3 linked regions of the Homo sapiens genome follow. The protein of the gene in region 2 purifies or fractionates together with the protein of the main gene of each other region. This does not show direct contact. Each region holds a gene or a part of one and is shown on either strand. Other genes may lie near its edges.

Evidence for each region.
Region 1: the proteins of PRSS37 (region 2) and ARSK purify together in Homo sapiens (affinity purification with mass spectrometry; one large-scale study listed by BioGRID and IntAct). This does not show direct contact.
Region 3: the proteins of PRSS37 (region 2) and AKAP1 purify together in Homo sapiens (affinity purification with mass spectrometry; 2 studies listed by BioGRID and IntAct, with this or other methods). This does not show direct contact.

What each region holds. Positions count from the first base shown.
Region 1 is NC_000005.10:95,568,529-95,572,180, reverse strand, and holds part of ARSK (arylsulfatase K precursor), read right to left. Parts: intron 1-3,652. UniProt on the Homo sapiens protein: Catalyzes the hydrolysis of pseudosubstrates such as p-nitrocatechol sulfate and p-nitrophenyl sulfate. Catalyzes the hydrolysis of the 2-sulfate groups of the 2-O-sulfo-D-glucuronate residues of chondroitin sulfate, heparin and heparitin sulfate.
Region 2 is NC_000007.14:141,838,534-141,842,654, reverse strand, and holds the start of PRSS37 (probable inactive serine protease 37 isoform 1 precursor), read left to right. Parts: upstream 1-1,169; 5' UTR 1,170-1,605; coding exon 1,606-1,639; intron 1,640-2,305; exon of another isoform or gene 2,306-2,390; intron 2,391-3,175; coding exon 3,176-3,317; intron 3,318-3,650; exon of another isoform or gene 3,651-3,719; intron 3,720-4,121. UniProt on the Homo sapiens protein: Plays a role in male fertility. May have a role in sperm migration or binding to zona-intact eggs. Involved in the activation of the proacrosin/acrosin system.
Region 3 is NC_000017.11:57,091,601-57,095,252, reverse strand, and holds part of AKAP1 (A-kinase anchor protein 1, mitochondrial precursor), read right to left. Parts: intron 1-3,652.

The sequences.
Region 1 (3,652 bases), on a different chromosome or scaffold from region 2:
CGATCCTAGTATGGTGTGGTGTGTCATATATAATAAGGGACACTTAATTAAATTAGTGTTCCTAAACTGGTACAAGAAGGAAGCATCGCTGATGCCTAAAAAAGACAGATGGAAGTATTATAATAATAAAGAAACCTGTAATTCTGGCTGAAAATATAAGCAGGTTCAAAAATGGCCAATTTCAGTAATAAAGAATTATAATAACTTGCATTTTGATTTTGAAAGTCAATCTATCAACAAGACTGAATGCCCCTATTTATGAAATTTGATATTTGAGAGACCATGTTTTGTTCTGAGACCCATTTTTAAGTTTACACTGAAAAGTAATGTGCTATATAATTCATATAACCTTCAGACATGCTATTAACAGCAACCTTGACCTATTTGTCAGCCAAATGTCTGTGTGGGTACATACAGCGCTCATAAAAATACTCCTGGTGGCTTATTTCAATTTCCTAAGCTCTGATGAGAGTGTGAGTAAATGAAAACATGCTTTAAGCAAGTATTGCACTGAAAACCATCTTTGACATCCCAAACATCAACATCTAAGTGTTTTTTTCCTCTACTAATTTTAGAATTCCACATGACAAAGAAAGAACTCCTAAATATTAATATTTAAAGAATTTTAAACAGTTAAAAACAGGATATCCTCTATTAGTTGTAGATATATACAAAATACTAATGAACAAGTGATATGATCCTGTGTTACACAGAATATCAATGTTTATCAAATAATAAACTGTAGGTACTTCAAAATAACTTTTTCATTCATCAAAAATTTAATTATGAACCTACAATGTACTGGCACTATGCTGGCAAATGGGAATAAAGCAGAGAAGAAGAGATAAGGTCTTTGCTCTGCATGGATAATTATCCTGCTGCGGAATATAAGTCAGGTCATATTTTAACCATGTCACATAGAAGAATAAAAGTTACAGGGAATATATGGCATTCAATCTTAGATTTCTTTTATTATAAACAGTTGTATCTTACTTTAGATTAAGCTTACATTCTAAAAAGGAGAAAGATTTTAAAGAGAAATTTGTGAAACTCCATAAAGTAACTAGCAATGCAAAGCACTTTAGAAAAATGATGGTTATGGCCGGGTGCAGTGGCTCACGCCTGTAATCCCAACACTTTGGGAGGCCTAGGCGGGCAGATCATGAGGTCAGGAGTTCCAGAACAGCCTGACCAACATGGTGAAACCCCATCTCTACTGAAAATACAAAAAATTAGTTGGGCGTAGTGGCCCATGCCTATGATCCCAGCTACTCAGGAGGCTGAGGCAGGAGAATCGCTGGAACCCGGGAGGCGGAGGTTGCAGCGAGCCAAGATCACGCTATTGCACTCCAGCCTGGGTGACAGAGCGAGACTGTGTCTCAAAAAAAAAAAAAAAAGATGGTTATATAAATGTTAGACTGCAATTCTGGTTAAGCCATTTTCATAATAATAATCTTTCCATTGAGTAAATGCTTAATCTGTGCCAGGCACTGTTAAATATTTTATATTATTCCGCTTAATCCTTGTATAGTATCTTTTAACTCATATAAAACACAGTCATCCAATGAGGTAGGCATCATAATTCTTACAGATAACTTACAGAACACTGACACTTAATGCCAGGTAACTTGCCCAAGAATTCTTACAGAACACTGACACTCAATATCAAGTAACTTGCCCAAGGTTACAAGGATAGTGAGCAGGGAAGCTGGGTATCTGACTGCTCTGATGGACACAAAGCCTGTGCTCCTCCTCCTACATGTACTTCTTCTCCCTCCCTTTCTTTCTGATATTAGCAGGGAAGAGTAGGGGAACAAGATTTTGCACAGAGAAACTAGCTCATGCAATAGTCCAGAAGTAGTGAAAAGCATATTAAGGAAAGTTTTAAAAGACCAGGTGCATACTGAGGGATGGAGAGAGTGGTATGAAATGAGACTGGAGGTAGACAGGGGCTAGATCATGTAGGGTCTCATAAATCATGTTGTGGATTTGGGATTTTAACTAACCTGAAGAGAAAAACCATTGAAAGATTTTAAGCAAGTGTGTCATGTAATCAGACATACATCTAAGAAAGATCATTCTGGTTGCCTATAGAAAATGGGTCAGATAGAGTAAGAAGAGTCCAGGTAGAAGCCCATTTTAATAGTTTAGGCAAGAGATGACAGTAGCTTGGTGGAGAGAGTTGAGAAGTGAGTAAGTTGGAGAAATAATTCAGAAGTAGAACTGACTACATTTGGCAATGCATTAGAAGACAGAGTAAAGAATAGGAATGTCAGGATTGCTTCTGCATTTCCTGTACTGCCATCTTTTAGATTTTGGAGGACAGAAAAGGGAAGAAATTAAACAGTAACTAGGAGAGCAATTTTAATGTTCAGATTATTTTAGATTATTTTAGTATCTGTTTACCCAAAACTCACTGTATTCATCTCCTAGAACTGTCAGAATAAATTATTGCAAACTGTGTGGCTTAAAACAACAGGAACCTGTTCTCCCACAGTTCTGGAAGCTATAAGTCTAAAATCAAGGTGTCAGCAGAGACACATTCCCTCTGAAGACTCTGGCAGAATTTTTCCTTGCCTCTTCCTAACTTATGGTGACTCCTGGCAATCTTTCATCCTTTGGCTTGTAGCTGCCTCACTACTATCTCTGCCTCTGTCTTAACATTGTTTTCTTCTCTGTGTGCCTATGTCCTTGTTCCTCTTCTAATAAAGACAGCAGTCATGATTTCATCTGGAGATCCTTACTAATTACATCTGCAAATAAGGTCTATTTTCCAATAAGATCACATTCTGAAGTTCTTTCTAGGTGGTCACGAAATTTGGGGGAACATTATTCAACTCACTACATTCATCAACTATTTTTGTTAACTTAATTTTTTCTTATTATTACTTATCATCATCATTAGTATCATCATCACCATCACAACAACCATTACAAATAACCCTCAATTAGCACTTGCCTAGGTAAGAAAGAGGCACTGTAATCCCTAATATGTATTCGTGTTGGGGTTCACAAGTGTTGGGGGATCCCAAGATCACACCGAAGTTCAGTAGGAGGAATTGCAGGACCCAGAATACAGCTGCGCTCATGGCTATAATTTATTACATAAAAGGATACACAGCAAAATCAGCAAAGGGAAAAGGTGCTTAGGGCAAAGTCCAGAAGAAACTAGGCACAAGTGTCCGGTTGGAGTCTCAGAGGACATAATTCTTCCACCATCAAATTGCGACGACACATGTGAAGTGTTGTTTCTGCTCATTAGAGAATCAGTACCCAAGTTTTTTAGGCGGGGGTGCTGATTATATAAGCACCCTCTACTTCGCACATACCAAAATTCCATACTCCTGGAAGGAAAGCTGGTATTCGGCATAAACCACAATGCACAAATGCTCCAGGCACACAATAGGCCACTCTTATCAGTTAAGGAATAGTGGGAATACTCCAGAAATCCAAGTTCCTAGATGCCAGACAGGGGCCAACCTTCCAAGCAGGCCTTTCTAAGGAGAGCAGTCTCAGGCCTCCTATGTTAGCTCTTTTCTGAACTTATTGATACATTTAATCCTCACAGCAAAGAAATTAAAGTACAGTGTCAACATTTAGACAATGTGTCCAAGATCAGACTACTACAATGCTAGTAGTAAACAGAAACTAT
Region 2 (4,121 bases):
TCGAAGTTTGGTCTCTCTGACCCCATTTGTGATGCCAATTGTAACAAGAAAAATCCAGAATCATATTTTTAAAAAAACCTTTCCCCCAAACTAGGAGGGAGCCAAGAGACCAAAGAATGACTCAGACAAGTCCAGCTTGGCCAGTGGATAAGTTTATTAGGACTTACATATGAGACACTCCTAGATAGCAGAGGACACCTTTAGAGACCTGCCCTGCTTTCCATCTCTAAGCTGCTTTTAAGCTAATTTTCTGGCTCTTTGCCTACTGTGTGTGCATGATGGGACTGTTTTCCTTGATAGGTTCTCAGGTATTCTCTGGGATGTTTGGGTACTCAAGGACACCTGCTCCTCAGCTGGACACCATGGCGTTGACTCACCACTTGGCCATCAAGGATACCTGCTTCTTGGCTGGGCACCGTGTCCTTGACTCACTACTTAGCCATTAAGGTTCAAGCAGTGGTCATACACCCTTAAGTATCCTGGTGGGGGACCTGCAACCCTACACCAGTGACAAGGCCTATTTCTCATTGTCCACGACATGTGACTTTGGGAAAACTACTTAGATTCTCTCTGCTTCAGTTCTGCCACCCACAGACCAGAAATAGATACCAGACCCAGCCCTATCTCTTCTTTCTAGGGTTGTTGTGACATTTGGAAAGAGATTATGGGTTTAAGAAACTTTAAAGGGTTAGAGTGATACAAAGTGTAGTGAATTTTACATCTCAGACTAACCTGATATAAAATCTCTACTGACAAGTCCGTAAAGATCTTAGCTCAGTGCCTAGGATTCAGTAAATGCTTAGAGGATATCAGCTATTAGTGTTACCGCTCATTTTCTTGTTAGACTATGCTCCCAATTATCCAAGGATGACTTTGGTAGTCTAATATTGGTCTAAGTCTTTAAGTATTAGAGGTACTGCCTTCTGAATTGTCACCAGGCCTAATGTCATCTAGACTGTAAACAATTCCCCAACTATCAAGATAACTGTTCTATGAATGCTTTTCATTTCCATATTTTCTTGGCTCAATGCTGTTGCTCAGGACAAAAAACACCAAGTTGGTGATGATGACTGAGTGATGAAACAGTGATCAGAGGGACATATGAAGCTAGTGTAACAAAGATGGGAGGGGCTGGGGAAAGTATAAGTAACTATTAGGAGGTTCAGAGCAAACCTCAGGACACTTACTCCCTGAGCTAAGGTAAAGAATATTGTCCCTCATAGCCCTGGTCTCAGAAACTCTGTGGGGAAGATAAGTCCTGAGCCTAGAGCTGCCATTTCCACAGACAACTGAACTACCTTCAAACAGATGTGTTTTTAGGGGCAGCAGATAGAAGGAGCTGAATCCAGGAGTTTCCTTCCCTGAAATGCCCCAACAGAGGCACAGTCCTCCACCTTCCCTGGAACAGAGGGCTTTCATCTGTCTCTCTGAAGCCATCTCCCTCCCCTGTTTATGCCCAGAGCTGCTTTCCAATCCCATGGAGTGCCTCCGTATCTAACCATAGCCACTGAGTCTACCAGGTGTTCCTGAGAAGACAACTAAGCCAACCGCTCCACACTCTGCTGATTTTCTTCTACATCTCACAGGGGGAAGAGCTGGATCACCATGAAATATGTCTTCTATTTGGGTGTCCTCGCTGGTATGTACTCAAGACCTTGTACTCTGTCCTGTAAGGCACAGTTTAATGGATGGGGTGAGACAGAGGCAGGATTGCGAAGGGTGCAGAAAAAGAGTCAAAAATAGTGTCATCAGCAGAATTAGGAGTCCTGCCTCTCAGACTCCATCCAAAGGCTCTCCGGATAGGCTGAGCCCACTTTTCTAGTGTTAAGCTATAGGGTGGGTTAAGGCACACATGTGCCTTGGAGAAGGCTTAACAGTGAGTGTCCTCCCACCGACACTAATGCAGAAAACAGAGAAGTAGAAACAAAAGATCAAGTACTAGGACCCTACCTTCTGTAGTCCTTGCCCCACATGGGGTTCTTCTGACAGCAGAATTTGCAGATGAGGCATTTCCCACCATTCTCTGACTGCCTAGGTTGTATCACACATTAGCTGTGTGAGATTAGCCAAGTTAATTAACTCTTCTGTGCTTCAATTTCTTCAAAATGGGGGTATGACTACCCATATTATAGAGCTATTGTGAAGATTAAATAAATCTATGTAAAGCACTTAGAACAATGCCTGCTATAGAGAGCTCAATGTCTCTTGCCCTTGTTTACAGTCTACCCTTTTCTCTTTGGGGTTTCTAACTGTGTGATCACACAGAAGGGTGTGGTGAGGTACAGACCCAGTCTTGGGGAAGGTTAACAGGAGTAGCAAGAGAAGCCAAGACAAGAAGAGGGCTTTATTTCTGATACTAGAATCAGCCTTCCTCCCCTTTATTCTCTAGGGTATGTTTTAAATAATTCATTTATAAAAACAATATATGTTCATATTACAAAATTTAGACATTTTTAAAGTAGAAAAATAAGCATCATTCATAATCCCACCTCTTAGTCAACACATGCTAACACTTTGAGTTTACTCTCAGAATCTATATATTTTTTGCATTTAAATGTTTTTATTTATTTGTTTTTAGACAAATAGATTATATCCACAATTTTCTTGTTCTTTTTAACTTAAATAAGCATTAATATTCTTTTGCTGTTTAATATTCTAATTAGTTTAATTTTTATTATATATGATGTTCCACTTTTTGATGTGCTTCAATGTCCAACATTACTATGTCAGATATTTATGTTTCCAGTGTTCAGCTGTTATAGCTAACATGAGCATACTTGTTTGTAATCCTTGTCTATATCTGATTTTTTTCTTTAGAATGGATTCTTGGGGTTGGAATGATTAGGTCACAGGTTATAAACAATTTATGATTCTTGATGCCTGTTTCTAAATTGCTTTTCAAGAAGATGGAATCAATTTACTAGCAGTGATGAGTGTCTCTCATTATACTCTCTTAGATTGAATATTATCAATATTAAACAAAATTATTATAAATATAAGATAAAATGGCATATCGTTTTAATTTACATTTTTATTAGAAAAACATGTCAAATACGTTAACACTTCTTGGCCAACTGATAACTGTTTAAGAATCATCCAGATTCCTTTTCAAGTAAGAGACTGTTACCTTATTTTTATAATATTTATGTATTAAGAATGTTCATTATTTTCTCAGGGACATTTTTCTTTGCTGACTCATCTGTTCAGAAAGAAGACCCTGCTCCCTATTTGGTGTACCTCAAGTCTCACTTCAACCCCTGTGTGGGCGTCCTCATCAAACCCAGCTGGGTGCTGGCCCCAGCTCACTGCTATTTACCGTTGAGTATTTGGGCATCCCCATCCCCAAAACAGCTACTGTTCATTCTAGATCAGTGGTTCTCATATAAGGGTAACTTCTCTACAGGGTACACTTGGCAATGTCTGAAGATATTTTTGGTTGTCACAACCAGGGGGCAGTGCTATTGGCATCTAATGGGGAGAGGCTAGAGCAAAGATGCTGTTTAACATCCTACAATTCACAGCACAGTCCCCACAATAAAGATTTGTCCAGCCCAGAACAGCAATAGTGCCACTGTTGAGGAACCCTGTGTTACATGTTATGCCTCCTCAGACTCTCATAAGTTTTTTTCTTTTTTTTTTTTTACTGGCAGTATGAATGCATTTTATCACTTAAAGATCTAGCAGGTAACTGATGATGCACTCAAATTGGGTCAATTGAGGTGAGTTTTAAGAAGGAACCAATTGCAAAGGTATGGAGACATTAAAGGGACAATATTAAGAATAGTTCCATACCACCAGGGTTTGTATTAAGAAAATGCAGTTACCACCTCTAGGCCTAAAAAGGCAAGAGGAGAAGATAATTTCAAAGGAGGCAAGGAGAGATAGAGAAAAAGCGAGACCTGTGTGAGGAGACAGCCTGATAAGGATTGTAACCCCTAGTCAAGGAGCACAGCCACTCTGTGACAAAACTGCAGGGAGGGACCTGGGAGGATAAGTACTCCAATCTCACTCTTCTTCCTCCAGTTACTTTCTGGTGCTTCCTATTGGCCAATAGAAGGAAGCCAGAGGACAAGAGAGCCCACTGATTAAATCCATATATGTCCCCTTCCAAAGGTGCAGAG
Region 3 (3,652 bases), on a different chromosome or scaffold from region 2:
GAGGCAGAGGTTGCAGTGAGCCGAGATCGCACCACTGCACTCCAACCTGGGCAACAGAGTGACACCTTGTCTCAAAAAACAAGCAATGACCTTTTCTCCAGTGGGCCTGTTACTGCCACTCTCTGCTACTGACCAACTGAAAGTTTTGTCCATAGGACATGGAAGTGCCCTGTTAGGGGTGAAGGAGGAACAGAAAATGGGGTGCCAGTGTCCTCAGACTAGAATGTTCTAGTATCTTGGGGTAGGAATGAGAGAATATAAGCCTGAATGCCAGCATTATGGGAGCCAAGGAGAGTTGGGATGCCCCATTCAATATATAGACTTTCATTCAAGACCCATCTTCAGCCAGGCACGATGGCTCACACCTGTAATCCCAACACTTTGGGAAGTTGGAAGATTACTTGAGCCCAGGAGTTCGAGACTAGCCTGGGCAATGTGGTGAGACCTCATCTCTACAAAAAAAAATTTAAAAGAATTAGTCGGGCATAGTAGTACATGCCTCTTGTCCCAGCTACTGAGCAGGCTGAGGTGGGAGGATCACTTGAGCCCAGGAAATCAAGGCTGCAGTGAGCTATGATGGCATTACTGCACTCCAGCCTGGGGGACAGTGAGACCTGTCTTTAAAAAAAAAAAAAAAAAAAAAAAGTTGGGGGGGACCCATTTTCACCACTCCCTGGTACCCAAATCCAGATCGCCACATTTATAACTTCTCTAAAAAGTGAAGCCAGACCTTCTGCTGGCCTGGCCTGGCGGAAGGGCTCCACAGGCCTAGTTGTCTGCTGACTTCAGCCACCCAACTGAAGGCCCAATCCATGCCTTCAAAGGTGCCTGTCCCTGCATGGATCGGCTGGCTTCTTGTGGGCCACAAACCACGCACACCTTCTCAGCAAGCTACTGAACGATGGGCTCCCCCAAGACAAGGAAATCAACCAAGAAAGGAGGGGCACTGGATCCAGAAACGAGACAAGAGAAGGGGAGAGGGAATTCCAAGGCTGAAGGGGAAGCAGAGCCAGGGAAAAGGGATGCGCCCAGGAGAAACGTGGAACCGTTGCGAGTACCTGGTATGTGGAGCCACAGTGAGAGCCACTTTCCCCCAATGACAGGCATTCCACAGCAATGGTGGAGGCTGCGAGGTGGTCAGGGAACTGGTGAGAGAGACAGAAAATTAAGCAAAAGAAACTAAGGAAATTAACTAGGAGAGGAGAAGAAGAAAATGAAGGAAAAGAAGAAATATGGGAAACTAAAAACCTTGCAGCCATAAACAAGGTTCATATTATAATAATGTATATTCTGAAGATCAACTTGACCAAAACTTGGGCTATCTCTACACTGGGATGATGAGGGAAGAAAAAAGCATAGGAACGAGCTAAATCCTATCTCCCACAGCAGAAAAACAAATCAGATAATAATCCTTAAAAAGAAAGAAAATAATACTACTGACAATGGTGGGGACAGCTGGAAGAATTGAAAGTAATGGGGGTGGGGGGCAGTGGGCAAAGGACTGTCCTTTCAAGCCTTGTACACAGTCAAAAGCCAAATCCTTTCTACAAGTAATGTTTTGATAGAAAACACGTTATTAAGATACATACAAGTAGCAATGCATGCTCTATTACCACACAGCTTTATGTTTCTTATTAACCATCCTAAATTTGCATTAATGTCAACTCATCTGTGTACAAACTTGTAAGGCCTTATTTTCCTATAATAATTGATGCCAATTTTGCTTCAGAGACCCCCAGCTGCCCAGCTGACATAATAGTAATATCAAAAAGAGAGCATGCTTATTGACAGGTTAGATCCCTCTGGAAGCAAGGCATTGAGGGCTAGCCAGCATCAGATGGCTGGACCTCTCAGGGCCAGTCATTTAACAAAGAGTTTAACACGCACTGTGAGCCAAGTTCGCTGGGCACATAAGGCAAAGAGATCCCTCAGGAAGCAAAGGTGGAAGGAAGGGTAGAGAGTCAAATTACAGGTAAGATACTGCAAAGATTCCGCGACTTAAATATAAAGACCTGCAGCCTCTCTCAACTGATTGAGAGAACTGAGCCCTAAGGCTGCCCTTGCATGTGATGAATTACCTATATCCCTGTGCGTGTAGCAGGGCACCAGCTGGGAGAGTTGAGGAACGGTCACCTAGTCCTTTTCTGTGTGCTGTGGTTGAAATGAGAAAGGCTGGATGGAGCACTTGGAAGGGGAAGCTGCAGACAGAATGAGGCGGGAATGCCTCTTGGAAGAGGTGGCATCAGAACTGGAACACTTGAGAACTGTGCCAAGATCTGGGGGGAAGCAGGAGGAGAGCGGGGAGAAAGTTCCAGGCAGGAAGAACATGTGCCAAAGTCCTAAGGCAGGAACAGGCTTGGCTGACTCAAGAGGTAGCAAGAGGGGAGGTGAAGATGAGGCAGAGCATGGCTCTCAGAAAAAGGGCTCTCCAACATCACTGCGCGGAAGGCCAGTCGGACTCGCAAGAACCCCAAGGGACACGGTCCACCAAACTTTCTCCAGAGGGGAAAGCGATGTGCCTGAAGAGCCAAGGGGCTTTAGTTCTTAATTAATAAGCAGAAGCTGCTTCCAGACTTGATTCCTGAAACAGGATGCCTCTGTGGCTGGTAGCATGACAGGTACACTGTGTAGGTAAACAGGGGCTTGCTTTTACCTTTAAGTTCTCAGCGAATACACTTGCCAGGAAGCCCTGTGGCCACACCACACATTAGCCTTACAGAGCCACCACTAAGGGTAAGGGATAATAAGCCCCCCTTACTCTCAGGCTCCCTCAAAGGAACCTGTTCCAATAAGGCAGTCCAGCCCCAGGAGGCGGACACACACAGCCTACGTAAGCCCTTGCCACTTCTTTGAATCAGACTTTGCAAAAAACAACCTTGCTCTCCAGCCAACATAAACCATAGGCAACAGAGGGCCTTATAAGGCTTGAAGCTTTCTTAATCAGAAACAGTTAGATGGGCTGGAGTTAGCAGCTCCAAGTTAGAGGGAAGGAGGAACTGAAAAGGAGAGAAGAAAGGGTGGCCTAGGGAACCAGCAAGCTTGCTGGTCAAACTGCTTTTTCATCCCTCTTCAGCTTCTGTGTCATCACAGTAAAGAATTCTCACCGGGGGTCTATGGCCATGCCTCCTTTCATGTTTGCATTTTGGTTTAAGCCAGAGGAATCAGACTGCCCACCAATCCACACTATTAGAGAGTTTTTAAGTGTCCATTTAGTGGCCAGCCTTTAGGCTGGGCAACTTCACACAAAAATGAAGTTATGGGGCCAGGCACGGTGGCTCACACCTGTAATCTCAGCACTTTGGGAGACCAACATGGAATGATCACTTGAGCCTAGGAGTCTTGAAATGGGTCTGGGCAAGGTGATGAGACCCCATCACTACAAAAAAAATTTTTTTAACTAGCCAGGCATCATGATGTGCACCTATAGTCCCGGGTACTTGGGAGGCTGAGGCAGGAGGATCCCTTGAACCCAGGAATTCAAGGCAGCAGTGAGCTATGATCGAGCCACTGTACTCTAGCCTGGGTGACAAAGCAAGACCTCATCTCTAAATAAATAAATAAATAAATAAATAATGTTTTTAATGGGGTTATGTGGTTTCCTGAAAAATTGCCTGCTGGGGCAACAAGGGGTCCTCACTCCCCAGGCAGCAGT